Linked DNA regions of Homo sapiens: all the other regions are linked to region 3. Evidence: fine-mapped expression QTL. A gene starts in region 3. Each other region holds a variant in brackets. All regions are shown on one strand. Distances are between the middles of the regions.

Evidence for each region.
Region 1: its variant is fine-mapped to the expression of AGO2 in whole blood (INTERVAL, PIP 0.91).
Region 2: its variant is fine-mapped to the expression of AGO2 in whole blood (TOPMed, PIP above 0.99).

What each region holds. Positions count from the first base shown.
Region 1 is chr8:140,589,824-140,600,281 of GRCh38, reverse strand. All of the region lies in intron 1 of AGO2 (argonaute RISC catalytic component 2), which reads left to right. Among named protein-coding and RNA genes, the nearest start is that of ERICD, 39 kb to the left of the region's middle. RefSeq lists enhancers at 960-1,049, 1,060-1,129, 2,510-2,559, 2,289-2,791, 3,140-3,479 and 3 more. The variant T/G (reference allele first, on the strand shown) is at 5,482.
Region 2 is chr8:140,452,779-140,463,236 of GRCh38, reverse strand. It overlaps TRAPPC9 (trafficking protein particle complex subunit 9), which reads left to right and starts at 5,493. Exons shown (of 23, transcript NM_001160372.4): 1 at 5,493-5,598. RefSeq lists silencers at 4,639-4,948, 5,069-5,308, 5,399-5,788, 5,899-5,948 and an enhancer at 4,721-5,239. The variant T/C (reference allele first, on the strand shown) is at 5,376.
Region 3 is chr8:140,631,297-140,641,754 of GRCh38, reverse strand. AGO2 (argonaute RISC catalytic component 2) reads left to right here and starts at 6,122. Exons shown (of 19, transcript NM_012154.5): 1 at 6,122-6,270. The coding sequence starts at 6,249. It overlaps ERICD (E2F1-regulated inhibitor of cell death), which reads right to left and starts at 7,520. Exons shown (of 1, transcript NR_170171.1): 1 at 3,472-7,520. RefSeq lists silencers at 5,558-5,957, 6,608-6,777, 7,261-7,310 and enhancers at 7,117-7,883, 7,884-8,651.

The sequences.
Region 1 (10,458 bases), 41 kb after region 3:
ATTAAAGGACACATCTTTCGAGTAGACTTCATACATGTCCCACTTTTGTGCCTTACAGCTTTTGTTGTTTGTAAATGACATCTTTGTAAAAAATAACTTTTCTAATCGTTGCTCACACATAGGAATGCATTGTGGTTCAGCAAGCTGGCTGGATTCTTTCTGGCTCTAACAGTGTGCCTGCCAAGGCGTCTCATCTTCACAGAGGCTGTCACGTCGTCTGCATGTGTCTTTGTGTCCATTTGCCTTTTAAATCATGAGAGGGCAGGGCACAGTGGCTCATGCCTGTAATCCCAGCACTTTGGGAGGCTGAGAGATCCAGATCACTTGAGGTCAGGATTTCAAGACCAGCTTGGCCAACACGGTGAAACCCCATCTCTGCGAAAAATACAAAAATCAGCCAGGTGTGATGGTGGGTGCCTGTAATCCCAGCTATTCTGGAGGCCGAGGCAGGAGGATCGCTTGAACCCGGAAGGCAGAGGTTGCAGTGAGCCGAGATTGCGCCCCTGTACTCTAGCCTGGGGACAGACTGAGAACCTTGTCTCGGGGAAAAACAAACAAAAAAATCGTGAGAGGGTCTTGATTTCCAGACAGGTGAAGAGATGTAGATCATATAAGGGTTGTCTGCACATCAGGCACCTCATTTAGAGAGATGGCTTTGAGCACCCCGGGTGAGCGTGTGAAATTTCTCACTTAGGTGATGGCCTGGACCCCATAGGTAGTGTAAATTCAAAACGCAAACCTGGGAGTGTCGGACCTGGAGCTGCAGGTTTTAGGGGGTTGGGGGCATTCACAGGCCCTCCTGCTTTTCTTCTTTCAGCTCTGACTGCTCTTGGGCAGGCTTCGTCTTCATCATCACAAAAGACGTTGAACCCTTGGAATCCAACAGACTTTGTTTCAGATTCCAGCACGCGTTTTTCTGCTGTGGCCTGAGTGGTTACTTTGGCTTCCCCCGTCTCATGTATGAAACGAGCCGGTGATAATCCTGGTCACAGGATTTTGCGTTCTGGTTAAGAAACCACAGCGACGCCACCACATAACGGACGCTCAGCGCACATCTCTTTTAGATGCTGGCCTGTCAGTGGGATGGCAGAAACTATTCAGATGTGGTGACGATTCTGCTTTGGGGACTGCTTCCCAAGCGGGTGCATCCTGCCGGATTTTAACACTGCTGGGCATTGTGAGTGGTGGCAAGATGAGGAGGCCAACCCTGTAGTCACTGGGCTCCAGGTCTGCCTGTGAGCTGCGGAGGGCAGGGTAGAGTGGCCTCAGCGTGAGCAGCAGGATGGGAGCCTCGAGGGAGAGCTGGGTTTGGAGAAAGTGGCCTCTGTTGTCGCGTTTCTGTCATTGAGCAGATTGAGCAAAAGCAGAGGCAGGAAAACGCATGGGGAGGCTGGTGGTGCGAGCCCACGGTAGCCATGAGTCCTGCAAGGAGGTGTCTGGGTTTGGGCCCTGAAAACTTTGGAGAAGAGGTGGGTCTGCTGTACAATTGTCTTGTGCCATTTAAGGTAATTCTGCCCTGTTGGGGCAGGTGTAGCTCCAGTTTTCAGAGGAGGAAACGGGGTTGGGGAGTGGCAGGCAGAGGAAGCAGCAGGCCAGAGTCCCAGAGCAGATGGAGAGCAGCCAGCACGCGCTTCCTCCTGGTGGGGCTCAGACAGGGCTTGGCACCAGGGCTGTCGGGCAAGCGGGAGGAAGAGCTGCGGCTCCGGGGTGCGGTGCTGCCGCGCAGAGTGGACCGGTGATCCTACGGCACCGTGGGCTTGTACGCACAGGGAAATGGAGGCACTCCCAGAGGAGCTGAGTGTCAGGCCTGGCACAGGTTGGAGAAGAGCTAGGCATTCTCCTGGTAAAACCGTAGGAAAGATGGCTGCGAAGCAGGAGAGATGCAAACTCTCTCTGGGTAGAAATGTCAGCAGCATTTGGTTTTCCTCAAGTAACGGAACGCAAACGTCTGCTTCCTGTTGAGTCCTGCTGCCTTTGCCGAAGAGAATTCTTTTTGGTGCTGTGGCTTTAGAACACCTGGATAAAGCCCTGGAAGTTGTTCTCCAGCACAGAACACGCCGTCTCGGGGTTCAGACATCTTCCCATACGGGTCGTGGACGCTCTTGTGGGTGTCTGTTTCCTGACCCCGAGGTCGGCAGTGGCTGAGCTGCTGTGTGGGACCCCAGTCCCTCTTGCTGTCCTGCCTCATCTCCTCCTTTCTCACCCTCCTGGGTTAGATCTTGTACAATAGTAAGCTCAGTGTTCGACCTGGCACCTAGAAAGGAGAGCTGTGCGCCCTACAGCCCAGCATGGGGCCCCGCCAAGCATCTGCTGGCACTGGCACTGGCATCTACTGTGAGGCCCCTGGTGGGCAGGGTCATCTCTTGGTCCTCCCAGGTGGCAGATGACGCAACAGCCCGGTGATGAGTGGAACAGGCGTGTGCGTTTCAGCAGATGAGCAGGAGATGTTGATGGATTTTGCTGCCTCGCTGATAAAAATAGACATTTATTCTTTTCAAGACAGGCAGAAAGGCTAAGATGTGTTATAACCCTGTGGGACGGAACTCAGATGGCAGTTTTTCATTTTTGATGTCTTTTTTTTTTTTCTTGATTCCTTTTCTCTTAAAATTAGGCCTCAGAAGCTAATCCTGTAGATCAGGCTGAAGCTGACAGGAGTGAGGCTGAAGCTGACAGGAGTGAGCCTGAGATTTCTGAATGCTCATTTATTTCTCCTTCCATCCTCAAGATTCAGGCTTGAAGCCAGGAGGCCATCCCCCAGGAAAGGGCCCCTCACTCAGGCAGGGAGGCCTGGGGCGGGGGGGGGGGGGTGGGGGGGCCACCCAGCCCCCATCGGTGTCCGTGGCTGCTGCCAGAAACGGAGTCAGAGAAAGTAATGTCAGCCAGACTTCAACTCCAGCTGGGTGTGAGCACCTTATGCCACCGCTGCCCACGCTGCCCTGCATCCGTGCTGCGCTGCGTTGGCACTGGAGAGGCTGGGAGGCTCTGGGAATTGGAATCCCTGGCTGTGCTTGCCGGAAAGGGTGTATGTAAATGAGGCGGTTTTCCTGCCACCTCTGCAGATGATTCAGCCCAGCAAGTGTGAAGAGGGAGGGAACGTCCCTGCCAGAGCTGGGACACAGTGCAGGGGCGTGGTTATAAATGAACGAAACAGCTCTTCTGCTGAGTTTTTTTTTCTTCTATACAGTTCCTCTGTGAGTTCCCTTTAACCATGACGTAAAACCCATTTTGTGGCTTTAGTCTTCTATTTCAAACAACATGTTCACCAGCAACGGTGCAGAACAGTGGGACGCACTCTGGGGCCAGGGTGCCTGTCTGCACCTTGGCTGGCTGGCACCCTCAGGCAGGTCCCCCTGGGCTGGTGGGCACCAGGGGAGTTCTCCCGGACAGGGTTGTGTCTCGCAGGATGAGACAGCGGTCACGACGACACAGCAGCCATGCGATGACGTGGGCCCGTCCCCCACCCCGGCCACTTGCCTCTCCCCTGCTGCTCCACCGACTCCTCCCAGCCTGCAGGTGACCCGGACGTGCTGCCTCACCTGTAGATGCCACTTTGTTCATCTGTGAGACTACGCTGGGAAAATGGGCTCACTGCAGATCTTGCATTGGGTACTTTTTAAATCTCTCTGGGCATCTGTTAAATGGCATAATGACTATCTGTGCTTACATCTTAAGCTTCTATTTTGCTTTTTTGTTTGTTTGAGATGGAGTTTTGCTCTTGTTGCCCAGGCTGGAGTGCAATGGTGCCATCTCAGCTCACTGCAACCTCCGCCTCCAGGGTTCAGGTGATTATCCCATCTCAGCCTCCCGAGTAGCTGGAATTACAGGCATGCGCCACCGTGCCCGGCTAATTTTGTATTTTTAGTAGAGACGGGGTTTCACCATGTTGGTCAGGCTGGTCTCGAACTCCCGACCTCAGATGGTCTACCCGCCTTGGCCTCCCAAAATGCTGGGATTACAGGGCATGAGCCACCACACCCAGCCAGCTTCTGTTTTCTTTAACTTAGGGATATATCAGAGAAAAATAGAATGATGTATCCAATATTCATCCTTCTCCCAGAGTTTGTTCATTTTTTAAAAATAATTTAGTTTTAAATAACAAATATAATAAACCTACTTAAAAAATACAGAAGCACAGGCCATGTGCAGTGGCTCACGCTGTAATCCCAACACTTTGGGAGGCCGAGGCAGGAGGATCGCTTGAACCCAAGAGTTTGAGACCAGTCTGGACAACACAGGAGGGCTCCATCTCTATAATATGTGTGTATGTGTGTGTGTGTATATATATATAATATATATATTATATAATATATATAATTTATATATATTATATATAAAATATATATTATATAATTTATATACATAATATATATTATATAATACATAATATATATAATTATATATTATATAATATACAATTGTATATAATATAAATATAATATATACAATTGTATATAATATAAATATAATATATACAATTGTATATAATATAATTGTATATACAATTGTATATAATATAATTGTATATACAATTATATATAATATATAACATTTACATATTATATAATATAATATTTATATATAATTATATATATTTTATATGCCAGGCTATATATATAATATATATAGCCTGGCATATAAATAATATATATATAATATATATATATATTATATATATAGCCTGGCATGATGGCACACGCCTGTAGTCCCAGCTATTTGGGAGGCTGGGACAGGAGGATCACTTGAGCCCTATGATCGCACCACTGCACTTCAGCTTCGGCAACAGAGTGAGATTCTGTCTCATAAGATAAAATAATAAATAAAATAAGATATAAAACGAATAAATAGAAGCATAGAGAAGAGTGGAAAGACTATAGCTTGACCACTCAGGAATAATCACGATAAATATTTTGTTTTATAATTCTTCCTTAAGTTTTCCCTTTCATACCCCAAATGTGTATGTGTGCATAATATAGGACAGATGGGATTGCATCAAACACCATTCTGAAGCTTTTTCCCACTTACAAGTACATGGAGCTCTTGCCGTGTGATCAATGGAGAAGCAGTGTCACTGAACTGTCCTCACAGTTCATTTAACCCATTTTCTCCTGATGGACCTTTCAGTCCTTCTCAGTCTTTTCGTGTGTAGACGCCTGGGTATTTCCTTAGGACAAATGCCTAGGTGTTGAGTTACCAGATCAAAAGGCTTGTAATTTTAAAAGCCTTCTGAAACAAGCTTGAAATCTCCCCACATGGATGGGAGTGGCCATTTTTTCTCATGCACTATCCAGTCATATCCCTCACCATTTCCTGTTGGAGTTTTTGATTTCATTAGTTTATATAAACTCTGTATATGTACGTTTATACCTTTAGGTTTGTGTATTTATGATGTCATAAAAATTTCCCAGTTTGTCATGCAATTAGAGAAATACACACACACACACACACACACACACACAGTTTTTTTCTTTCCGTCGAGACGGG[T/G]TCTCACTGTGTCAGCCAGGCTGGAGGGCAGAGGTGTGATCTCGGATCACTGCAGCCTTGACCTCCCCAGGCTCAAGTGATCCTCCCATCTCAGCACCCCCGAGTAGCTGGGACTACAGAGGCATGCCACCATGACTGGCTAATTTTCTATTTATTTTTATTTTTTATTTTTTTTTGTACAGATGGGATTTTGCCATGTTTCCCAGGCTAGTCTCGAACTTGTGGCCTCAAGTGATCCACCTGCCCCGGCCTCCCAAAGTGCTGAGATTACAGGTGTTAGACACCACACCCAGCCAAAAATCATCCTTTTGCAACCTCTTTTTGGTTCTAAGAAAGAGGGCCGGGCACGGTGGCTCATGCCTGTAATCCCAGAAAGAGCATTCCCACCCCAAAACTATAAAAGGTTATTAAATTTTAAAATATTTCTGTGGATATTTTTGTTCCATTTAAAAATACTATCTATTTACAGTTTCTATTTGAAATTTATTTTGTAATAGGATGTGAGAGGGAGCTCACCTTATTTTTTTCCTTCAAATATTCAGAAAATTGTTCCGACTGAGTTATTTCTCTCCTGTCCCCTTAACTGGCAAGCCCCCTCCAGCCAACCCGAGTGCTGCCAGTGGCTTGCCTGCCCATTCAGGGAGATGGTGATGGTTTTCCTCCCTGCCCTCTTCTGAAGACGAGCGCCCTGAGAGCAGGAGTAGGAGGTGCTCAGGCAGTGTAGGGTGAGTGGCATCGTGCGTTGAGGTAGAGTTTAGGAAACCCTTAGTGCAGGGCTTGGCACCGGCAGACCTCACTGGTGGGCAGGTATTCCTGTGCTCGCAGATGGAACTGAGTGAACCTGGTGAGGATGGATTGTCACGCATTTGGTTCCTCCAGCTCCTTTTGTTTGATTTAAGCATAGTTGTTATCGATTCAAGGCAGCGTGGCTTGGTGGCAAGGCTTGTGTGCTCTGGTAGCCGTGAGTGCTGTGTGTGAATCCCAGCTCTGCCTGTCAGACACCTCGGACCACATCTGTAGGATGGGGATCCTGCCTGCCTTGCCCGTGGTAAGGATTAAAGGAGCTGATTTGCCTGAAGGGGTCTGCATTGTACCTGACACAATGGTGGTGGCCATTGCTTCTTCAATTATGGGAACTTATGTTAAAAAGGGAAGTAAACATTTTATGTAAATATTGAGAAAAGTACTAGGTATCTAGGATGAATCAGTTACTGTAAAAGGGCACAAAGTTTTTTTTTTTTTTTTTTTTTAACTTTCCTAGCTGCTTAGCACAGATACGAGGCATGAGGGTGGCAGATCAGTGTATGTCGGCCGGGCACAGTGGCTCACACCTGTAATCCCAGCACTTTGGGAGGCCGAGGCGGGTGGATCACCTGAGGTCAGGAGTTTGAGACCAGCCTGGCCAACATGGTGAAACCCCGTCCCTACTAAAAATACAAGCATTAGCTGGGTATGGTGATGCACGCCTGTAATCCCAGCTACTCGGGAGGCTGAGGTGGGAGAATCACTTGAACCCAGGAGGCAGAGGTTGCAGTGAGCTGAGATCACGCCACTGCACTCCAGCCTGGGCGGCAGCGAGACTCCATCTCAAAAAAAAAGTTTTGGTCTATTTTTATTGATACGTAATAGGTGTATATATTTTCAGGGAACATACATGTGTTAGGTAGGTCAGATTCTTGTATGTTTTGGGTGAAAAAAGGATTCAGTTTGGAGAACAAGACTCTTTCTGAAGTACAAGAGATGTCACATGGACCCTCATCAGGGCGGTCAGCTGATTTGATGGCTGATGTTGGTGGAGGGGCAAACTGGAAATCACAGTCCTAGCCCTGTGGTCTGCTGCCCAGGTGCCCTGGCTGTCACCTCACCCCATGGAGCTCCTGGCTCCTCAGCTGTGCAATGAAGACAAGTCCAAGAGCGAGGACATGAGAAGAGACAAGAATGTGCTGGAAGTCTTGTACTGGAGTAATGTTGATGCTGGAGAAATGTTGGCTTCTTAGTTGAAACAGGCTGGGTGCTGTGGTGCATGCCTGGAATCTCAGCACTTTGGGAGGCCAAGGCAGGAGGATCACTTGAGGCCAGGAGTTTGAGACCAGCCTGGGTGACATAGCAAGACCCCTGTCTCTACTAAAAAGGATAAAATATAAAATAAACAAACAAACAGTAAAGACTATTTGTAAAAGGTAGAGTAATAGCCTTCCTATGGATACCTTATGGTTTTGTCCTAAAAACACTTGGGATTGAGTCATAAACCCATAAGGCATTTTTACTAAGAGTTGGTGTAACAAGAAGATATTCTTTTATTCATCTGTGTATTCATTCAGTCAACAGTTGCACAAAAACAGACACAGTCCTTGCTATATTGCAGTGCCTACATTCTAGTGGGAGAGGCAGATACAGAGTCGGAATCACAAAAGAAATCTAGAGTTGAAACCAGAAAAGGCTGTAGAGAAGAGTCAGAGAAATGTACGCATAAGGCATTCTTCATGTCTCCACTGAGAGGTGTCAGGCTTCGAGCAGCCCTGGACCAGCGTGCGGGTCTGTCTTGGTAGGGCCGGTGGTTGAGATGCTGTGGTCTCATCAGTTGCCCCGATTGGGGAATGTTTCTGTAGGAGATAACTTACATTTTACCAGTATTCCTTTAATTCCTCTTTGTCTTTATTATAGTATTTTTTTTTTTTTTGAGACAGAGTTTTGCTCTTGTTGCTCAGGCAGGAGTACAAGGGTGCGATCTCAGTTCACTGCAACCTTCACCTCCCGGGTTCAAGTGATTCTCCTGCCTCAGCCTCCCAAATAGCTGGGACTGCAGGTGCCTGCCACCATGCCTGGCTAATTTTTGTATTTTTAGTAGAGATGAGGTTTCACCATGTTGGTCAGGTTGGCCTTGAACTCCTGACCTCAGGTGATCCACCTGCCTCAGCCTCCCAAAGTGCTGAGATTACAGGCTTGAGCCACTGTGCCTGGCCTTATTACAGTATTTCTAATATTGTTCAGTAAAGACAGATGGTGGATCAAAGAGGATGTTTTTGACTTGTGAGGAAAAATGTATTCATAATTTATGGGGAAAAGTTTTCTTCGTAAAGATCACAGGGGTGGCTTTCAGGACCATTTCTCAAAGAGATAATGGTGGTTGCAGTTTCAGGTTGAACCACAAACATTTATTTTAAAAAACCCCAACAGGAAATTCCGTGTTGATGGTTAGTCATCTGCGGGAGCTTAGGTGTTTGTTTATAGTCAGTCCTAGACTGTACGGGTGTGTCATGCTCTTCCTGTGCACGCTGTATTGCTCACTAAAATAAGGTTAACATATTTTCAGGCTATTACTCATTAAACCAAAAGAGGGGAGCAAGTGGTTTAGGGATGATCATCAGTCTGATCTGGAGGCGCAGGCTGCCTGTGTCGGCCTCAGCGCAGCGTTCCAGTCTTCCCTGGGGGAGTTCTCCCTGCTGTCCTTGCCCAGCACCTTCTACAGCCCCTGCCTTTGGGGTGACTGCTCCCCTGCTCACGTTGCCTCCCATGGCCCATTCTTTTGGTGTTGCCAAGAACCAGGCTGAGACAGGTTGGAAATGCTCCAATAATTTCTACTCAGGGAGAACAGAAACGAAAGCCTTCCAGGAACCGCGCCTGCAGAACACAGAAGTGCTCAACAGAAGTGCGAAGATGCTGCTGAGGACAGCTCCGCTGCCCCCGCTGTGAGGACTGCCCCCACCCGGGGCTGCACCCAGAGCTGCACCCAGAGCTTCCTTCCCTCCTTCATTCCGACCCAGCCTTCCCATGGGCCCAAGGGAGTGAAGGCAAAAGCTCCTTCTCAGCGTGTGGATGCAGCCAGGGAGCAGTGGTGGATGGCTACATCCTGTGTCCCCATGCCCACAGGAGGAGGGGTAGGGGCCATTTCCTAAGCTGGGACCCATGAGGTCCTGAGGCTGCAGCAGGATCTGTCCCCAGGGCAAAGGGGCCCTAGGGCTCTGGTTGATGGCCAGCATTCCCCAGAACGTATTCTCTGAGCCTGTGCACCAGCTCCCCGTTGCCACACTGAGACCCCCTTGGTGGCATCAGCTGGCTCCTGAGACGATGCCCCTGGTTCCGAGGAGCACTGATGCAGTGGCTCCTGCTCAGGGCTGGAGGGTGCACTCTTCCTTCCTGATGCAGAGCTCTGGCTAGAGGCAGGAGCAGCCTCCCCTGTGGAGGTGGGTGACCGGTGGCCAGCGAGGTGGGTTCTGTTGACTCCCTTCCACCGTGGGGCATGTTTGTGCCTCCGCTTCCTCGGCGTCTGTTTTCGGACAGGTTTTGTGGCCAGAAACCTGGGACCCCCATCTGTGCCTCTGCTTCCTTGGTATCCGTATTTGGATGGGTTCTGTGGCCAGGGACCTGGGACCCCCATCTGTGCCTCCGCTTCCTCGGCGTCCGTGTTTGGGCAGCTTCTGTGGCCAGGGACCTGGGACCCCCAAAGTGCGAGGGTTCCTTTTCCTCCCCGTCTTGTCACATTTGACTTTTGGTGTGTCCTCACAGATCTGGGGGGCTCCAGAGCCCCTGTCGAGGTCAGTTTGCCCCAGTTTGGGAGTCAGACCGGGGGGAGGGGGTAGAACGCATCAGCTGGGGACCCAGCTCCAGCCATCCCTGCACAGCTGTGACGCCTGGGCCAGACGCGTCTCTGTGAACGTGGGCTGGGTGAGGCTTTGACTTCGGCTCACCGTGGGCTCATTGGTGGCCCGGGCCTGGCATGGGAGACAGCATACAGTTGTCTGCACTCCGGCTGACAGGAGCAGATGTTCCGACTGCATTCCCAGCACACATTCTGAGACCGTCTCTGTCCATTTCACCAAAAAAGCTGCCATGACTGTGTTTAGCGTCAACTTGGGTGGCCATAAGGGAGGCTTGCTTGTGTAGACAACAGGTGAGTTGTCACCCTCGTGTCCTGATTTTAGCAGGAGAGTACAGCTTGATAGCATCTACTCTCTGGTCTGTACTCACTGAGCCATC
Region 2 (10,458 bases), 180 kb after region 3:
GGAGAAGAAACTCTTTATGGTACTGGTGGGGGATCAAAACCCTTGAGAGGTGCTGGCTTTTGTGCAAAGTGGAGTGATTGGATCACCCAACCGGAACACCGTTAGCCAGGACATAAGCTGGAATTGTACCAGGAAAGTAAAGCTATATGGTCACCTTACCCTGAGGCTGTACAAGTAGCATGTGACAGAATTTGTCCATTCTGTCTCAAATTGCCTTCTCACACTTTCTTTAATCCTAATGATAGCCCTATGAAATGATTATCCTTATATAATAACTGAAAATATGGAAGGCAAGTAATTAGGGAGTGATGGAGCAGGGACTCTGTCCTAAACTTTTTTTTTTTTTTTTTGAGATAGGGTCTCACACTGTTGCCCAGGCTGGAGTCTAGCCTGCACTTTTTTTTTTTTTTTTTGAGACGGAGTCTTGCTCTTGTTGCCCAGGCTGGAGTGCAGTGGCACGATCTCTGCTCACTGTAGCCTCTGCCTCCCAGGTTCAAGTGATTCTCCTGCCTCAGCCTCCCGAGTAGCTGGGATTACAGGCGCCCACCACCACGCCCGGCTAATTTTTGTATTATTATTATTATTTTTAGTAGAGACGGGGTTTTGCCATGTTGGCCAGGGTGGTGTCAAACTCCTGACCTCGTGATCCACCTGCCTCGGCCTCCCAAAGTGCTGGGATTACAGGTATGAGCCACCGTACCTGTCCCAGCCTGTACTTTTAACTCACAGCTGTGATAATTGTCAACCTCAGCAAGCCTTGTGGGGCATTAGTCCCATATATAGATTATATATATATTATATGTGTGTGTGTGTATGTGTGTGTGTATATATATTTAGACAGAGTTTCACTCTTTGCTCTGTCTCCCAGGCTGGAGTGCAGTGGCACGATCGAGCTGACTATAGCCTTGACTTTCTGAGCTCAAGCAATCCTCTCACCTCAGCATCCCAAGTAGCTGGGACTACAGGTGTGCACAATCGTGCCGGCTATTTTTTAAATTTTGTGTGGAGATGGGGTCTAGCTATGTTGCTTGGGCTCATCTCTAGCTCCTGGGATCAAACAATCCTCCCTCCTTGGCCTCTCAAAATGCTGGGATTACAGACATGAGATACCGAGGCCAGCTTGGTCCTATTTCTTGAGACCCCTTGACTGGATGTTTCAGGGAAGCATATTCTGGCTGAGTTTACTGGATAATTTTCTTGTAGAGCTTGTTATGAACTGAATGTTCATGTTCTTCCCAAATTCATATGTTTAAATTTATTCCCCAATATGATCATATATGGATGTGGGGCCTTTGGGAGGTAATTAGGTCATAAGGGCAGAACCCCCATGAATGGGATTAGTGCGCTTCTAAGAAGAGACCAGGCTGGACACGGTGGCTCATGCCTGTAATCCCAGCACTTTGGGAGGCTGAGGCAGGTGGATCACCTGAGGTCAGGAGTTCGAGACCAGCCTGGCCAACATGGTGAAACTGTGCCTCTACTTAAAATACAAAATTAGGCCGGGTGCGGTGGCTCATGCCTGTAATCCCAGCACTTCGGGAGGCTGAGGCAGGCGAATCACCTGAGGTCGGGAGTTTGAGAGCAGCCTGACCAACATGGAGAAACCCTGTCTCTACTAAAAAATACAAAAAATTAGCTGGGTGTGGAGGTGCATGCCTGTAATCCCAAGTACTCAGGAGGCTGAGGCAGGAGAATCGCTTGAACCCAGGAGGTGGAGGTTGTGGTGAGCTGAGATTGCGCCACTGCACTCCAGCCTGGGCAACAAGAGTGAGACTCTATCTTAAAAAAAAAAAAAAAAAAGAGACCAGACAGCTAGTTTGCTCTCTATCTGTCATGTGAAAATACAAGAAGCCAGCCATCTGCCATTCAGAAGATGACCTTCATCACACCCTACCCATGCTGGCGCCCTGATCTCAGTGTTGTTCTAGTAATTTCTTATATCTGCCCAAACCAACTAAGACAAATAGCCACATCATCAAAGCATTCTGCCTGTTAGGACTTTTGTAGAGGGGAGAGAGTGTGAGTATGAGGTTGGACCTGGTTATTTTAGAAATTCCTTCCAACCTTAGATGTCTGTAAATTCCTTGAGGGCAGGTTTTGTATGTTTGAATTGTCACCCTTCAGAGGAGATGCTTAGGAAATGTTAAAGATGCTAAAGGAGCACAGCCCCAGGACCTAGACAGTACGGGGACTGCTTTGGATGTTCTCATTTGATCATTGTGGGCTGGGCTGTGGCAGGCTCTTACACTCTCTGAGCCTCCGTTTTCTCATTGGTAAAAATGCAGAGTAATAATACCAGCACTTTGGGAGGCCGAGGTGGGAGGATCATGAGGTCAGGAGTTCGAGACCAGCCTGACCAACACGGTGAAACCCCGTCTCTACTAAAAATACAAAAATTAGCCGAGTGTGGTGGCGCGCACCTGTAATCTCAGCTACTCAGGAGGCTGAGGCAGGAGAATCGCGTGAACCCGGGAGGTGGAGGTTGCAGTGAGCTGAGATCGTGCCACTATACTCCAGCCTGGGTGACAGAGTGAGACTCTGTCTCAAAAAAGTAAATAAATAAATTTAAAAAAAAGCAGAATAATAGTCCCCGCTCTCCTTCCCCCACAGATTTGCTGAGACAGCAACATAAATTGATTGAAGTGTGTACATTGCAAATAAGCAATGTTTCCTTTTGCCAGCTTTCAATCTTGCTTTCCAAGTTGCTTGCCTTATCCACTTACAGACAGAATAAGAAAAGACCTATGCAAAAAGTAGAGTCTGTGGGGTCTGACAGCCCTGGATTTGAATCCCTAAATAGCACCAGCCATTTGTGTGACCCCAGCCAAGTAGGGTATCCTTTCTGGACTTCAGCACTAAAAATAGCTCCCTTGCTTGGATCTTATGAGGTAAGCTTGGAGCCTAGTTTCTGCACTCAGACCTCCATTAGCAGTGGCCTTTTAAATGTATCTTTTCTGTATTCTCTGTTAAGCCCATACGCTCTTTTGTTTATTTATTCATTTAAAAAAAATAAAAAAAACCACTTTTTTTTTGAGACAGGGTCTTGCTGTCTCTCCCAGGCTAGAGTGATCATGGTTTACTGCAGCCTCGACCTGGCTGGACTCAAGCGATCCTCTTGCCTCAGTCTCCTGAGTAGCTGTGGCTACAGGTTTGTGCCATCCTGCCCAGCTAATTTTGGTATTTTTTCCAAGAGACAGAGTTTCCCTGTGTTGCCCAGGCTGGTCTTAAACTCCTGGGCTCAAGCAATCCGTCTGCTTCGGCCTCCCAAAGTGCTGGGATTACAGCTGTGAGCCACTGCACGGCCTCCATGCGGTCGTAACACCATGAGGTAGCCACGTTGGGCAGCTTGTGCGTTGTCAGGGAGACACTCTTCCTCAGCCCCTGGGCACCTCTGTTGAAAACTTCCTGGCTGTCTGGCAGGCTGGAAATCAGCTCTATTTGTTTTGCCCTGAAGATATGTTTTATTTATAACTCATTCTGACTCTGTAGAAAATAATTCAATAAAAACTCAATTGGTTTTCCACTAGCCCTGAGCAGGGATGAGGGATAGTATCTTATTTTATAACACATGTGATAATAAAACAGCCCTGGTCACATAGCCCAGAGCGGGTAAGTGCCTGCTGGCTGAAAGGAAAAATGCTGGCTCAGACCATTTCTCCCTTGCTGCTGTATGTGCTGAGAAAACCACTCCTGTCCTCTTTACTTTTCCATTTTAGGATTTTTTTTTTTTTTTTTTTTGAGATGGGCTCTCTCTGTCACCCAGGCTGGAGTGCAGTGGTGTGATCTTGGTTTACTGCAGCCCCCGCCTCCCGGGTTCAAGAGATTCTCCTGCCTCAGACTGCCTAGTAGCTGGGATTACAGGCATGTACCACCACGCTCAACTAATTTTTGTATTTTTAGTGGAGACTGGAGTTTCACCATGTTGCCCAGGATGATCTTGAACTCCTGACCTCAGGTGATCCACCCGCCTTGGCTTCCCGAAGTGCTGAGATTACAGGTGTGAGCCACCACACCCAGCCCTTTTTAGTGTTTGTTGTTGTTGTTGTTTGAGATAGAGTTTTGCAGTTGTTGCCCAGGCTGGAGTGCAATCGCATGATCTCGGCTCACTGAAACCTCTGTCTTCCAGGTTCAAGCGATTCTCCTGCCTCAGCCTGCTGAGTAGCTGGGATTACAGGCGCGCGCCACCACATCTGGCTAATTTTGTATTTTTAGTAGAGACGGGGTTTCACCATGTTGGCCAGGCTGGTCTTGAACTCCTAACCTCAAGTGATCCACCCGCCTCAGTCTCCCAAAGTGTTGGGATTACAGGTGTGAGCCATTTCTCCTGGCCAGGATTTTTTAATTGAAAAAGAAATACATGTACATGTTAAAAGATTCAAACAGAACATTAAACATACATAACGGAGAGCGGCTCTCTGTTTTCAATTTTCCCTGCGGATGCCACTGTTAATTCATGTGCTGGGCATCTTAAGTCTGTAAGCCTCCCCCATCTCCTGCTTTATTTTATTTTATTTTTGAACCCAGAGGGGTTTAAATCCTTAAATGGCTTCTGCCCGCACTTAGCAAGCTTGGCGCCTTGGCACTGAACTAACGACAGCTGTCCTAGCCCCTGTCGCCTCTTTGGAACCTTTTATGTGGATGGATTGTTGGGGCCCTCAAAGTCGGGAGTGCCATGGTGCCAGCTGGGGATCAAGACCGCGCGCCACACAGGGGGAAGCCGGCCCAGGCTGGGGCTCGCACCTCACGTGCCTCCCGGGCCCTGCGATCCTGGAGGCGCTCCCAGGCCGCGCGCGCCACGGTCACCCACCCACGTGGGGGGCACGACCGTGGGAGTCACGGGGGGTACCGTGAGGGTCACAGGGGGTGCCGCAGGGATCCACAGTGGGCTTCCGCGGGGCCTCCACCCCTGAGCTTCACAGAGGAAGTGAAATTTGAGCTGCGCGCCCTGAAGGACTGGTAAGCGGCGGGGACAGAACTGGGCCTCCTTCCAGCTGCGCCGCCCCAGGTGCAGAAGCTTTCCTCCTAGTCTCTGTTCTCTTGCTCCGGTCCCTCCCTCCCTCCTCGCTCCATCTCCCTCCATCTCCCTCCTTCCCTCCTCCTCTTCCTCCCTCCTTTCACCCCTCCTTTTTCCCTCCCTCCTCCCTCCTCCACCCTCTCCCTGTCCCCCGCTTCTCTCTCTCGCTGCCCCTCCCTCCTTCTTTCACCCCTCCTCCTCCTACTCTCCTCCTCCTCCCTCCCCGTCCCCGCTTCTCTCCCTCGCTCCTCCTCCCTCCTTCTTTCACCCCACCTTTTTCTCTCCCTCCTCCCTCCTCCTCCTCCCTCCCCATGTCCCCTCCCTCCCTGTCCCCTCTTCTCTCCCTCGCTCCTCCTTCCTC[T/C]TTTCTCCCTCGCTCCTACCCCCTTGCTTCCCTCGCGTCTCTTGCAAAACCCGGGACGGATCGGGGGCCCAGGCCTGGCCTCCGCGCACGCGCAGGAGCAGCGCCGGCTCGGCCGCCAGTAGGAAGCGCCAGCCCAGAGCCTGGGAAGTGGCCGCAGAGGCTGCTCGGCCCCGCTGCCCGCCAGGTCGTGGGCTCCCGCTCCGGGCCCGGGGCCACCGGCTGTGTAAGTGCAAAGCGGGGGGGCTCCCGGTCAGGCAATTCGGACCGGCTGCGGGGAGGGCTGCGCGGCTGGCCGTGGAGTCGGCGCGTCCCGCGGAGGGGCTCGCCCGGCCCTCACCTGTCCGGGCGGAGCCCGCCACACCTGTCCGGGTCCGCTGCCGGGCCGGGGTTCAGCGTGCACCTGCTCGAGGCGCCCTTGCTCCTGTTGGCGCTCTGCTTACATCTGTCCAAGGCCGTGTCCCACACCCGCTGAAGACTCGGCGGACACCTGTCCGGGACCCGGCCCACACCTGCTGCCCGGGCCGGCTCTGCTCTCCCGAGCTCGCGGCGGGGGTCCCCTTCCCCTCTGTGCCTCCGAGCTGTCTCCGCCTGGCTTCCCCTCCCGGGCCGTCCGCGGCGCTGGAGCCCCCCGCCCCTGGGCCTGGCTAAGCCCACTGGAGCCCGCGGGGTCTGGGACGCGCGGCTGGGGCCTGGGGCCCAGCACAGCCCACGCCCCCGGCGCTTTCCCCGCCCTGAGTTCCCGGACTTCTCCCCTAGCCCTTTCCCTCCTGTCTCCTGGATTCAAAGTGCCTGCGATCTAGCTGGGCGGCATCAGGCGGTGCTCTCTGGGATAAGCGCGCTGTCAACTCCAACTTATCCCAGGGAACCCTGGGGAGAGGAAGTCAGGCTACTGGCCTGTGGTCTTCTCCCTGTCAGCCCACCCCAATCCCCTCCACCCCTGCAGACCTTCCCAACGTGAATGTCTGTTAACCGAAAGTTTTCCCGTGTTAGGATGCGTTGTCTGTCTTCAAATGTTTCTATAGAGAGAGGAATTAAAACGCTGGAAGCAAGGCCCAGTTGAAAGGTATGGGGGAGTGACTTCCCTTCCATCCCTCACGGCCCCAGTTTAAACTGGTGACTGTCCCGTGTTTCTAAGGTAGTCATAGCTACCTATGACATCTTTATTTGTTAACCTGAAACAAAGCACCGGGTGGATGATGTTGGAGGCCCAGGAACATTGCCGTCCTAAAGATCTGGCTAGGTTTTGTTGTGTGTGTTTGTTCGTTTTTTTAATTGTGTGGAGGACTAGTAGTGTAGAGGGAAAAACAGTTGTCCGGAAACATGTAAACAATAAATGTTTCAGAAATCTAGTGTGTCAAAAATAACAGCTTCATTGAGCCTCGATTACCTGCCATAAAATCCACTGCTTTAAAGTGTACAATTCAGTGATTTTTCTTTTTTTTTTTTTTTTGAGACGGAGTCTCGCACTGTCGCCTGGGCTGGAGTGCAATGGCACGATCTTGGCTCACTGCACCCTCCGCCTCCTGGGTTCAAGCGATTCTCCTGCCTCAGCCTCCTGAGTAGCTGGGATTACAGGTGCCTGCCACCATGCCCGGCTACATTTTTTTTGTATTTTTAGTAGAGACGGGGTTTCACTCTGTTGGCCAGGCTGCTCTCGAACTCCTGACCTCGTGATCCACCCGCCTTGGCCTCCCAAAGTACTGGGATTACAGGCGTGAGCCACCATGCCTGGCCAATTCAGTAATTTTTAGTATATTCACACTTGTGTTACCATTGTCATTCCAGAACATTTTCATCACCCCAGAAAGAAACTCCATACCCATTAGCAGTCACTCCTCATTCCCCCCTCCGACAGCCCCTGGCGGCCACCGGTTTACTTTCGATATATATAGATTTGCATATTCAGGGCATTTCCTATTAATGGAATCATACAACATGTGGCCTTTTGTATTTAGCTTCTTTCATTCAGCACAGTGCTCTAAAGTTATTCATGTTGTGGCTTACATCAGCACTTTGTTCCTTTCTGTGGCTGAATAATATTCCATTGTATAGATTTAACATTTTGTGTATCAGGCAGTTGATGGACATTTGTGTTGTTTTCACTCCTTAGCTATTAAGAATAATGCTGTGCCTGGCCAGGCATGGTGGCTCACGCCTGTAATCCCAGCACTTTGGGAGGCCGAGGCGGGCAGATCACGAGGTCAAGAGATCGAGACCATCCCGGCCAACATGGTGAAACCCCCTCTCTACTAAAAATACAAAAATTAGCTGGGCATGGTGGTGGGCGCCTGTAGTCCCAGCTACTTGGGAGGCTGAGGCAGTAGAATCCCTTGAACCTGGGAGGCGGAGTTTGCAGTGAGCCGAGATCGCGCCACTGCTTTCCAGCCTGGCGACAGAGTGAGACTCCATCTCAAAACAACAAACAAACAAAAAACAAGAATAATGTTGTGCCTGTAATCCCAGCACTTTGGGAGGCTGAGGCGGGTGGATCACCTGAGATCATGAGTTCGAGACCAGCCTGGACAACATGGCAAAACCCTATCTCCACGGAAAATACAAAAATTAGCCGAGCATGGTGGCTCACGCCTGTAGTCCCAGCTACCCGGGAGGCCGAGGCATGAGAATCGCTTGAACCTGGGAGGCAGAGGTTGAGGTGAGCTGAAATCCTGCCACTGTACTCCAGCCTGGGTGACAGAGCGAAACTCCATCTCAGAAAAAGAGGAATAATACTGCTATGTACATTCCTGTACATGTTTCTGGTGTGGACACATGTTTTCAGATCTCTTGGATTGCTGGTTTTATAGTAGCTCTATGGAGGAACTACCAAGTTGAAGATACATATTTTTGCTGTTTTAATACCTGTATTAGCTTAGTCTCAGATACCAGAACTGGCTCAGTGGCAGGTGTCTTTTTTTTTTTTTTTTTAAAGAGTCTTACTTTGTCACCCAGGCTGGAGTGCAGTGGTGTGATCTCAGTTCACTGTAACCTCCTCCTCCCTGGGTTCAAGCGATTCCCGTGCCTCAGCCTCCCAAGTAGCTGGAATTATAGGTGCATGCCACCAAGCCTGGCTAATTTTTGTATTTTTAGTAGAGAAAGGGTTTTGCCATGTTGGCCAGGCTGGTCTCGAACTCCTGACCTCAGGCGATCCACTCGACTTGGCCTCCCAAAGTGTTGAGATCACAGGTGTGAGGTCAGGTTGTGTTTTTTTTTTTTTTTTTTTTGAGAGGGAGTCTTACTCTTATTGCCCAGGCTGGAGTGCAGTGGCGTGATCTCGGCTCACTGCAACCCCCATCTCCTGGGTTCAAGCGATTCTCCTGCCTCAGCCTCCTGAGTAGCTGGGATCACAGGCATGCGCCACCACGCCTGGCTAATTTTTTGTATTTTTATTAGAGACCGGGTTTCTCCATGTTGGTCAGGCTGGTCTCCAACTCCTGACCTCAAGTGATCTGCCTGCCTCCGCCTCCCAAAGTGCTGGGATTACAGGTGTGAGCCACCACACCCGGCTGATTATGCTGCTTTTTAGATGAGACGATAGTTTTTATTTTTAAATCATTTTTATTTATTAATTTTTTTGAGATGGAGTCTCGCTCTGTTACCCAGGCTGGAGTGCAGTGTTGTGATCTTGGCTCACTGCCTCCTCCACCTCCTGAGTTCAAGCAATTCTCCTGCCTCAGCCTCTGGAGTAGCTGGGACTGCGGGTGTGTGCTACCACTCCTGGCTAATTTTTGTATTTTTAATAGAGATGGGGTTTTGTCATGTTGACCAGGCTGGTCTCTAACTGCTGACCTCAAGTGATCCTCCCGCCTCTGTCTCCCAAAGTGTTGGGATTACAGGTGTGAGCCACCGTGTCTGGCCGAGATGATACTTCTAAAATAAGGCCCTTTGTTACCTGCGGTGGGCCGCGCTCTCCTCCTCTGTAGAATGAAGGCTTCGGTGTTTCTCAGCTTCTGTTAAACCTGTGCCTACTTTTGAGAAACATGAGCGCTCCAGTCTCCCCCGCTCAGTATTTTGATATGTCCTCCGAGGGGTTTTATGCCTCTTTGTTGGAAGGTGATGTGATTTTGGTTCTTTCGAAGGTGGTTTTTGTGTGCAGAAAAGACTCTTTAGGGAATCGTTGTGGGGAAAGGGCAGGAGAGAGTGGGGCGTCGTCCTTGAGAGCGTGAGCACTGGAGTCAGGGACTTGGGCTGAGTCACACACATGTAATATACTTGTGAACCGTTTAGATCCTGGGCAGAAGCAAGACATGTTGGGAGGCTAGGGTTTCCTTTTTTTAAAATTTAATTTTGTTCATACTTCTCTATCCATGTGTATTTTTGAAGTCTGTAGAGGTGGGGTTGTGATGTCCAGGATAGCCCCCGACACACAGTCCTCCTCCTCTCCGTGCAGGTGAGAAGCTTGCCATTAGAATTTCACAGAGGTCTTATAGCAATGTCACTTTAATCTTAGTGTCACCTGGGAGGGTTTTACTGCCACGATCTCTGCAGTCAGGCTTTGGTGACCTGAAGGTTATGCAGTTTTGGGCTTCCTATTTAAGAAAAAGAAAACAAAATTAAAAATGCAAAATTAGATAGAGGGCCATGGAAGGGGCCTGAAGCTGAACCCCATTAGCTCATGGTACAGCTGCCTCTGGCCATGGGGACCATGGCCAAATCCCCTCAGGAAGTGTCAGCCCACTGATGGGGACAGTGGAGGTGTGTATCGAGGCATCTTTTTCTTATTTGATACAGAGAGCTCATTTAATCTCCCTAACCTTTAAAAAAATTAGACTTTTTATTTGAGACTATAGTAGTTGTAGCTCCATGTGCATTTGTCAGAAATAATACTGAGGGATCCTATATACCTTTTGCCCAGTTTCCCCCCGTGGTGCCATGTTACAAAACCACAGTATGTTATCACAACCAGAATGTTGACTTGCTGACACCTTGAGGTATGTGTTACTATCCTCATTTTTATTCACAATGAAACTAGGGTTCAGGGAAGCACACAGGCTTGCTCCAGGTCACCCAGATCGTGCGTGTAGAGCTGGGAGTTGAATATCGGCCCTGACTTCCAGGCAGTGGGATTTCCATCATGACCGTCTGT
Region 3 (10,458 bases):
AAAATTAGCCAGGCGTGGTTGTGCACGCCTGCAATCCCAGCTACTCGGGGGGCTGAGGCACGAGAATTGCTCAAACCCGGGAGGCGGAGGTTGCAGTGAGCCAAGATCATGCCACTGCACTCCAGCCCAGGTGACAGAGTGAGAATCTGTCTCAAAAATAAATAAATTTTTATTTTTAATTGTCATTAGTATATAGAATTATGGTTAATTTTAAAATATTGGTCTTACAGCCAAAATCTTTGCTAAACAATGTATCAGTATATTATTTCAAAGAAACATGATACTAGGTAAGAATGATAGTATAAAGGAGTCATTGTGGAAAGCTAAAAATTGACACTTGTTTACATCATTATATACTTGGCTTCTTTGACAATTTTTACTTAATGTTTCTCCTCCTATGAAAGATAGGTTGCTGTTTTGTGTGTGTGTGTGTGTGTGTGTGTGTGTGTGTGTGTGTGTTTTGAGACAGCGTCTTGCTCTATCACCCAGACTAGAGCGCAGTGGTACAATCACAGCTCACTGCATCCTCAGCCTCCCTGAGGGCTTAGGTGATCTCCTACCTTAGCCTCCTGAGTAGCTGGGACTACAAGCACACAATCATGTCCCACTAATTTTTGTATTTTTTGTAGAGATAGGGTCCCACTCTGTTGCCCACACTGATCTCAAACTGTGCTCAAGACACCTGCCCACCTCAGCCTCCCAAAGTGCTGGGATTACAGGTGTAAGCCACCATCTTTAGTGAAAGATAGCTTTTATTTATCTCTTTTAACTCCAGAAAATGCTACAAGCTGGATACACCACATCCACACAAATCTCCCAAGGACTTTGTAGAAGATGCATTGGGATGAATTTGTAACTCTTGACCTTAAACAATTTGTGGCAGCATCTCTCATGTGCTCTGGGTGGTCTTCACATCATGCTTAGGAACACCAGCTGGGCCAGGCGTGGTGGCTCACGCCTGTAATCCTAGCACTTTGGGAGGCCAAGGCGGGCGGATCACAAGGTCAGGAGTTCGAGACCAGCCTGGCCAATATGGTGAAACCCCGTCTCTACTACAAATACAAAAAATTAGCTGGGCATGGTGGCGCATGCCAGTACTCCTAGCTACTCAGGAGGCTGAGGTAGGAGAATCGCTTGAACCCGGGAGGTGGAGGTTGCAGTGAGCTGGGATTGCACCACTGGCACTCTAGCCTGTGCAACAGAGCGAGACTCCATCTCAAAAAAAAAAGAAACACCAGCTGTCCTCAGGCTGGGGCAAAGGAAGGCAAGGGCACCCACACCTCATAGGTGAGACACCATCCTTTGAAGAGGAACTAGATTCAGAGTTAAATTTAGGGGGCTGTAAGTAAGTGTGCCAGACTAAAAAGCAGAGATCAATGCCTGCCTGAAAAAAATACAGTTTGAAAAGAAAAAAAATAATAAAACAAACAAAAAGAATGCAGTTTGGCTGTGCATGGTGGCTCACGCCTGTAATCCCAGCACTTCGGGAGGCCAAGGCAGACAGATCACTTGAGGTCAGGAGCTCAAGACAAGCCTGGCCAACATGATGAAACCCCATCTCTACTAAAAATACAAAAAATTAGCCGGGTGTGGTGGCATGCGCCTGTAATCCCAGCTGCTGGGGAGGCTGAGGCAGGAGAATCACTCGAACCCAGGAGGCGAAGGCTGCAATGAGCCGAGATGGCACCACTGCTCTCCAGCCTAGGAGACAGAGCAAGGCACTGTCTTAAAATTAAAAATTAAAAAAAAATGGCAACTTGAGAGGAAACAGAGGGCCAAAATGAAGTACCTCTTGTCTAGAGATGGTTACCTGAAGAAGCAGAAGGTGTGGCCTGTATTCAGACACGCTCACCAGTCAAGGGAACACCACATCCAGGCCCCTCCACCCTATCCTGCAAAGGGGGCCCAGCTGGCAGACCCAGTGGAGGATGGCACTGGCAGATTTTAAAGAGGTTATCATGGCCTGTTTTTGTTTTGTTTCTGAAACAGGGTCTCACTCTGTCACCCAGGCTGGAATGCAGTGGCACAGTTATAGCTCACTGCAGCCTCGACCTCCTGGGCTCAAGCAATCCTCCCACCTCAGTCTCCTGAGTAGCTGGGACTACAGATGTGTGCCACCATGTTCAGCTAATTTTTTTTTATTTTGTAGCGATGGGGTCCCCAGGCTGGTCTGGAACTCGTGGCCTCAAGCAATCCTCTCACCTTGACCTCCCAAAGCACTGAGACTTTGGGCACAAACCACTGCATATGGCCTGCTTAGTTTTTTTTTTTTTTCAGATGGAGTTTCGCTCTGTCCTCCAGGTTGGAGTGCAGTGGCACAATCTCGGCTCACTGCGACCTCCGCCTCCCAGGTTCAAGTGATTCTCCTGCCTCAGCCTCCCGAGTAGCTGGGACTACAGGCGCGTGCCACCACAACCAGCTAATTTTTTGTATTTTTAGTAGAGACAGGGTTTCACCGTGTTAGCCAGGATGGTCTCTATCTCCTGACCTCGTGATCCACCTGCCTTGGCCTCCCAAAGTGCTAGGATTACAGGCGTGAGCCACCTGCTTAGTTTTTAATTAAAAAACAAAACAAAACAAAAAACCAGTCTGGGCATAGTGTCTCACACTTGTAGTCCCAGCACTTTGGGGGCTGAGGCTGGTGGATCACTTGAGCCCAGGAATTTGAAACCAGCCTGGACAATATGGTGAAACATCATCTCTACAAAGATTAGCTGAGCCTGGTGGGATACTCTTGTAGTCCTAGTAACTTGGGAGGCTGAGGTAGGAGGATTATTTAAGTCCAGGAGGCTGCAGTGAGCTATGATTGCACCACTGCACTCCAGCATGGGCAATAGAGTGAGACCCTGTCTAGAAAAATACAAAAACAAAAAAAATAAGGTCAGGTGTAGTGGCTCATGCCTGTAATCCCAGCACTTTGAGGAGGCCAAGGTGGGAGGATCACTTGGGCCAAGCAGTTCAAGACCAACCTGAGCAACACAGTGAGACCTGTCTCTACAAAAGTTTTTAAAAATTAGCCAGGCATGGTGGCATGCACCTGTGGTCCCAGCTGCTCAGGAGGCTGAGGTGGGAGGATCACTTGAGCCTGGGAAGTCAAGGCTGCAATGAGCTGTGTTTTCGCCACTACACTTTCACTTTGGTGATCCTGTCTCAAAGTATATATTACTCAAAGAATCATAGACTATTAGAGCTGGAAGGGATCATAGAAGACCTCTACCTCTGTGTTTCCTAAATTATGCTCCACGGAACCTTGAGGTACCTCGTGAAAAAAGGGTTCTGTGGCTAAATGGGTTTGGGACAGGTTGCATACTGTCTCATGCCCTCCTTCCTCTTTGTAGAAGCATGATTCTTCTCACCTTGCTACAGGCTCTGAGAAGGCCTGCAGACAATAAACTTATTTATCATTGTTTGATCCAGTGCTTCCCAATTTACTTGACTTCCCAAAGCTGCTTTAATCATGTGCAGAACATGTTTTAGGAACAAATGATTTATTCCATTGCCTGCATTTTAGTCTTGAAGAAACAAAGTGCCCCCAAAGCCGAGGGCTTTGTCAGCCCTGTGGCCTCAGGAGCTTTCTCTGTACTTCCCCTCACCCCTTCTTTCTCTCTCATGGGGAGCTGGTGCTTTAGACTGAGTGCACCCAGTGTGCAGAGCTGCAGGCCAGGCTGCTGCAAATGTCCCTGGCTGTGATTAGAGCCCACGGTCTTATCAAAGCATCAGGATCCTAAAACACAGAGGAAGGAATTGTATCAGGGAGAAGCACTGGGTCCAGAAGACCCAGAGTCGGCTGAGTCACCATCCGGGTGTGGGACGTGGGTCTGGGGGACAGAGCAGCAAGGGCTGGAGACATGTCACAGCAAGCACCGAGACGCACAGTCAGATGAGTTAAGCAGGTTCACTAATGGCAGGAGAGGTAACAGGCAGAGGGGACTGCAGTTCTCAGCTCCGTTGGGTGGTGGATCTGTTAGCCATGCTGAGTGAGGGACACCAGAAGAAAAGCAGGTTGGGAGGAGGGTAGGGATGGGGCTGCAGGAAGCGGGCTGAATTCCTGAACACAGGTGTGGAGGGTAGAGACCTGCAGAGAATGGGCTTATCTAGGAAAAGAGCAGAGGGAACCCCGTGCCCCAGAGGGCGAACCCAGTGACTGCATGGGCCCTGGGGATAGAGATGGGGCAGGCAGCAATGGCACCCCTCCGCCAGCAGAGGGCCACGGTGTCCGCCATCCAAAGAGAAGTGACACAATGAAGCCCTCAGAGACATTATCTTGCCTTCTGGAACGAAATCCTTGCAACAAAGTTCCCCAACACAGCGCTCAAAGGAGCTGAAGGCGGGCTGAGGGCAGCCAGTGATGACAGAGCCTTCTGGGCCTTTGCTGAGGCGTGCAGTCGCTGACAGCAGGGCAGTTGGGCCTCAGGGATTTCGGGCCAAAACGAGTTTTGGGGATATGTGAAGGAGACAGGGGCAGAGAGAGAGGGTGGGCATCTGCGAACTGGGAAGATTGATGAGGTTGCATGGTTCATAAATAGGAAAGTGGTAACATTCATGATTATTTAAAAATTTCCGTGAAATACTACAGTAAAGGTACAGAAAAGCATATAAAGTAAAAGTGCAGTTTAAGGGATGGCTGCCAAAGGGCACCATTGCAGGAAGGAACAGGCCTGGCACCCCCAAATCCCCCAGGGGCCCTGCTGTGGTCACAGCCCTCTCACCCCCAGCTGTATCCACCATTCTGACACTTAGAGTAAGCACCTTCTTGCCCTTCTGTCAATTATTTACTACTTAATGATGCTTCCCTAAAGAATGCAGTTTAATTTTGCCTGTTTTGGAATTTTTGTGAATGGCTAGATTCCATCCTGTGAATATGAGCACACTGTTTCTCCATCCTGCTCTCCGTGGGTATTCAGTGCCATGCAGTCCAAGCGGTGATGAAGAATGCCATGCACACTCCTACCCAGGTTTCCTGGTGTTCATTACTACACATTTCAGGAGCACGTTTTGTATCGGCAACTTGGTGAAGACTGATGTCCTTTTGAGTTTTCGGAGGAAGTGCTGGTTCTCCTGCCCTTCTTCAGGGCTGTCCTCCGAGACTGCAGAGAACTAGTGACCACCCTGCTGGCTGCGGAGCTCCTGTCAGTCAGAACTCCTGTTTATTCTCCGCCCGGAACAGGGCCTTGCACCCATATGCAGACAGCCGATGCCACGGGGTGAAGGAATGCTCCGGGAAATCTGGGAAAAGGCGACCAGGCACTTTAGATTGTGGGTCAACCTCTGCCTTCTAATCCTCCATCACTTAGGGGAGAAAGGAGGTAGCCACAGGCTGGCTTTTCCAGGAAAGCCTCCGAAAACCAGACGGACCCAGAGGGACCGGACAGAAACGCTCGGAGGTGCACGACGGTCCGAGCAGGCCCCTGACTGCTGGAATGGGCGTGTCCGCTGATCTGATCCCTGATACCAGCTACAGTTTACTAAAAACTTCTTAGATTTTCTCAGTGCTTTAAACGGATTATCTGGGTTCTGGGGCCGCGCCGGGAGGTGGCGGTGTGGTCCTGCGCGAGCGGCCGGCCGCGTTCAAGTTCAAGCTCCGGGCTGGGAGGGAGCTTCCCGACCTCCGTGTTTCTGTAGTAACTTAAAGAGCCAGGCTGGGGGCCGAGGGGCTGAGGGTGGGAGGGTTCTGCGCCCCCCACCGGGGGGCGGCGGGGAAAGCGGGGGCGCGTGGCCTCCCCTCCGGCTCCGGCGGCACAGCCGGGGGGCCCGGCTCCTCCCCGTCGGGAAGACGCGGCTTCTCTGGGTGGCAGTGAAGGGTCCCCGGGGCCGCGCCCGCCCCCGCGCCACACGGGCCGCGCCGCCCTCGGCCCTCGTCCCCGCTCCCGCCCGCGGTTCCCACCGCCCGGCGAGGTCTCCGGGCCCCTCCCCGGGTCCCCGCCCCAGGCCCCGCCAGACCCGGCGCCGCCGCCGCCGCCGCCGCGGACCCCGCCCGCGCGCCCAGCCCCGCTCCCCCCGCGAGCGCGCTCCCGCCGCCGGCCTCGCCTCCCCTCCCCCTCCCTCCTCCTTCCTCCCCCGCCCCTCCCGCTCCCGCTCCCGCCGCCGCCTCCGCCCGCCGCCCCGGCCGCGTCGGGTAAACCTGTTTGGCGAGGCGGCCGCGCCGGGGCGGATCGTGCGGCCGGCGGCTCCCTCGCGGCTCGCGGCGTCGGGGCCCGTGGCGCGCGCGCGGCCGCCCCTCGGCCCCGGAGCCCCTCGGCGGCGCCACCATGTACTCGGGAGCCGGCCCCGGTGAGTCCTGGCGCTCGGGGCGCCCGCCCGGCCGTTCGCGCGCTCCTGCCCGTGGTTGGCGGGCCCGGCGCGGGCGGCAGGGGCCGGGGATCGGGGGGCCGCGGGGTCGGGGCGGCGGGGGCCGGGGGCGGGCGAGCCGGGGCCGCGCTTGGGGGCTCGAGGAGCGGCGGCGGCGGGGCCGAGCCGGCCGTTTTCTCGGCCCCGCGTTGGACGCGCAGCCCCGGCCTCCTCGGCCCCCGCGAGTCGTCGGGGCGCCCCGCGCGGCCTGGGCCCCTCCCGCGCCTCGGGCCCGCGTCCCAGCGTCCTCGCATCCCCCGCCCGGGGCCCGCGGGCTGGGGCCGGGGCCGAGGCGGCCGCCGCGTGTAGGCCCGAGGCCCGGAGCGCCCCGCTTGGCCCGGCCTCGCTGCCCGGGCGGGGATGGGGGCGCCGCAGCCCGGCCCGGCCTGACCCTGAGCGCCTGAGCGGGTGGAGGCCGGGTCGGGGCGCCCGGCTCGGGGCGCGCACGGGCGGGAGGGGAGGGGGCTGCGCCGGTCCCGACCCCAGCCGCGGTGAGTCTGTGGCGCGCTCCGTTGTGGCCCTTCTTGTTGCCGGCACTTCTTCGGCCCCTTTTCCCAAGGAAAGTCTGGAAATGCTGAATTTTGGCCAATTCCTGTAGTTAGGGCTGTCGCCTGGAAAGGGGAGGACGCGGCTCCCCGGAACCCTCAAACTGCGTGCGCGGCTCGTTCTCATTCCAGACACGCCGGCCTCCCCATTCAAGTGCTAATTCCTTTTACAATTTCCTAGGAGAGGTGAGGCGAGGTGGATTCCTGTAGCACCCCTTGTTGCTAGTCGGCCTTTCTCTGGAAAAGTTCTAAAAAACTTAAAGCGGTAACGCGTTGTTTTTCTTTTTAAATGCAGAGTAGAAGGCGGTCTCCTTGGTGGGCCAAAAAAACGGTCAGGTGTTCTCCTGCTTTTGGCGTGCTCCCACCGGGCACGTGGCTCCTGGCTCTCTCGGCCGGCCTGGCCGCTGGGACGGGGCACCGCCTGCTCCCCTTTGTCCGCTGGGCCCCAGCCGGGCCGCAGGCGGCGCAGGCCCCGCCGGGCTCTGGGCTTATGTTTACCCGGCCGGGCGAGGAGGCTCGCATTCCCGATGCTGCCCTCGTTGCTGCAGACCGGCCCCAAATTGTGGGGTCCGGAAGGCCCCCTGGCCCACCTTGGTCCGTTGATGGTGGCCCCCACTGCTGGAGCTGTTGGCTCTGTGCCTTGCGAATGTCGCGTCTTTTTTCTGATGTCATTTAGAAAGCTTCAACAAGGCGGAGTCTGACCAACTTTTCAACCCCTGAGGGCCATCAGCAGTTTGAAGAATGATTTTCCCCCTCCACCTGGGAGGGGCCGCAGTCCTGGAGCAGGTGCTGGCCTCTAGAGGCCTTGGGTGGCCAGGCCCCCTCTTGGGAAAGGACCGGGCATCCCCTTGTGAGTTGGGACCTTCCAGCTCCTCTTTGTAGAGGAACCCAGCTTATGGGACTGACAGCACTACATTTTTTCAGGTTATCGGTTTTAAAAGTTGGAGGCCCAGAAAAAGTGAAGAGGCTTTAAGGAAGGTCAAGCTTTCTGTGTTGTGTTTTGCGTGTTACTTAATTCACTCCACTTGCTGAGGTTGGTGGTGTTTGTGAAGACAGACAGCCGAGGCTCACAGAGGTTGAGAACTTCACCAAGGTCACACAGCAGTGAGTGAGTATCAGGACAATCGGTCCGACTTCCGAGCTGGTTCTCTGGGTGCCTTCCTCAGGGCAGTCCCTTTCAAGCCCTATAACCCAGACCCACAGTAAGAAGTCTCTGTTAGGGCTGGACTGGACCAGCACCTGCCCGCATACTTGTCATTGACAGCGGGGCTTCAGGAAGCCACCCCAGCTCACTGCTGTACTGTGTGCACTGCCCCGGGATGCTGTCTTGTCGATTTCATTTTTCAGCGTACCTTGGCCCTCATGATCCACAGGCTCGTTTCTGTCACTCGCTGCTTTTTGGAGATTGTTGCCTTGGTGTGGGCCTGGTAGGGAGTGGACCCTCTGGAACAGGACAGTGGTTGAAAGAATAAATGTGTCTGCAGGATAATTCATAGCTAATGGCAGGATGGGAATGAACCCAAGTTTCAGGTTGTACAAACGTGCTGTAATTATAAGTCTGTGGTGCAGTTCCATTTTATGCTACACATTAAGGCTTTTAATTTTGTGTAAAAGGAATTTTTGGAATAGTCTTCATTGAGACTCTTTTTAATCTTATACTTTCTAATTTAGAATTATAAGACATTCAATTTGAATTATAGAAAAATTACATTGGGAGGCCAAGGCGGGCGGATCACGAGGTCAAGAGATCGAGACCATCCTGGCCAACATCATGAAACCCCGTCTCTACTAAAAATACAAAAATTAGCTGGGCGTGGTGGTGCACGCCTGTAGTCCCAGCTACTCGGGAGGCTGAGGCAGGAGAATCGCTTGAACCCTTGAGGCAGAGGTTGCAGTGAGCCAAGATTGCGCCACTGCACTCCAGCCTGGGGACAGAGTGAGACTTGGAGACTCCATCTCAAGAAAAAAAAAAAAAAGAAAAGAAAAATTACAAATAGTTTTGCTACTTCCAATTGTAACACCCTTATTAGGCAACTTACTAATTTAAAAAGCAGTTCACAATAGCTCTACATTATACCAATCACAAACAAATGCTGTGACGTATGTGAATGCTATTTAGAATCTGAAGTTAGAAATGTTACTATTTTTTCGTTTTTTGAACTGAGTTAGTTGTTTAAGATGGGTGGATTCTCCAATGACCTTGAACCTTCACTGATGAACAAATTAGTTTTTTGGTTTTTTAACCATTTAAAGGTCTTGATCTGTGTCTAGTGATTGCCTGCCCCCAGGATATTGTCTCTTATGGTTTTGCTACACTTTCAAGCTCCCGTGTGTTACACCCCTCGCAGATTTGCCACAAAGTAACCTCTGTGACATCTAAGACTTGACAGTTGTCTAAATAGGATTGTGACTTTGAGAAGAGCTGAACTTCACTGTGGTTTATAGAGCCATTTAACTCCTCCTGCCCCCTCTCCCCCTTCCCTCAGTGGTCCCCATGAAGGTATGGCCACTTCTCCCAATACTGGTGCCCATCTGCCATGGCAGGATATCACCCTCTACCCGTGGGGCAGTTGACATGGCCGAGGCCATCGCGGCATGGCTGGGTATTTGTGCAGAGTCCCCCTTGGGTCTTTGATAAACCTTGGGGAATAATTTAAGTAAGTGCATAGGAAAAAAAGATGTAAACGCTTCCAAACTCCTAAACCCTGTGCAATTTGAAGAAGCAGAATTATTTTTTAACTTCTAGTTTCCATGTCAAAAGTTTCCACAATGCCAGTTGGGCTTATTCTCTGTGTGTTGTACAGTGAATGCTCTCCTGTAATGGTCCAGTCTCATAAAATGTGGTTTTGTTTCACGAATCGTTACTGTGAATCTTCAAAACATAACATTTGAGTTTTAAAAATAGTTAATATTGTGAAATAATTGAAAAGACATAAAAGTAGAGTGACTCATTTAATACCCCTCCATTTATCCATTAGGAAGCTTTAGCAGTCATCAGGGTTCTCCACATTTGCTTCAAATATGCCCCTTTTCTTTGTGGACGTTTTCCAAAGTGAATTGCAGACCTGTCATTTTACCTCGATATTTAAATATGCGTGTCTAAAGCAATGGAGACGTTTTGAACATACCCCAGTGCCGTTATGACAGTTAACAGTCTGTGATCAATTTCTCTCATATTCTCAGAAGTGTGTTTCCAGTTGGGTGCTTTGGATCCTGAATTTTAACCAAAGTTCACACACACATTTGGGTCTCTGCCTTCCGCCTCTAAAGCTAGCCCACCCTCTCTCTTCTCCCTGCATTTGACTTGTTATATTTACGTCTTCTTTTTTTTCTTTTTTTTTTTTTTGAGACGGAGTCTCGCTCTGTCACCCAGGCTGAAGTGCAGTGGTACCATCTTGGCTCACTGCAACCTCCTCCTCCTCCCGGGTTCAAGCGATTCTCCTGCCTCAGCCTCCTGAGGAGCTGGGACTAAGCCACCATGTCCGGCTAATTTTCGTATTTTTGGTAGAGATGGGGTTTCACCATGTTGGCCAAGCTGGTCTCAAACTCCCAACCTCAGGTGATCTACCTGCCTCGGCCTCCCAAA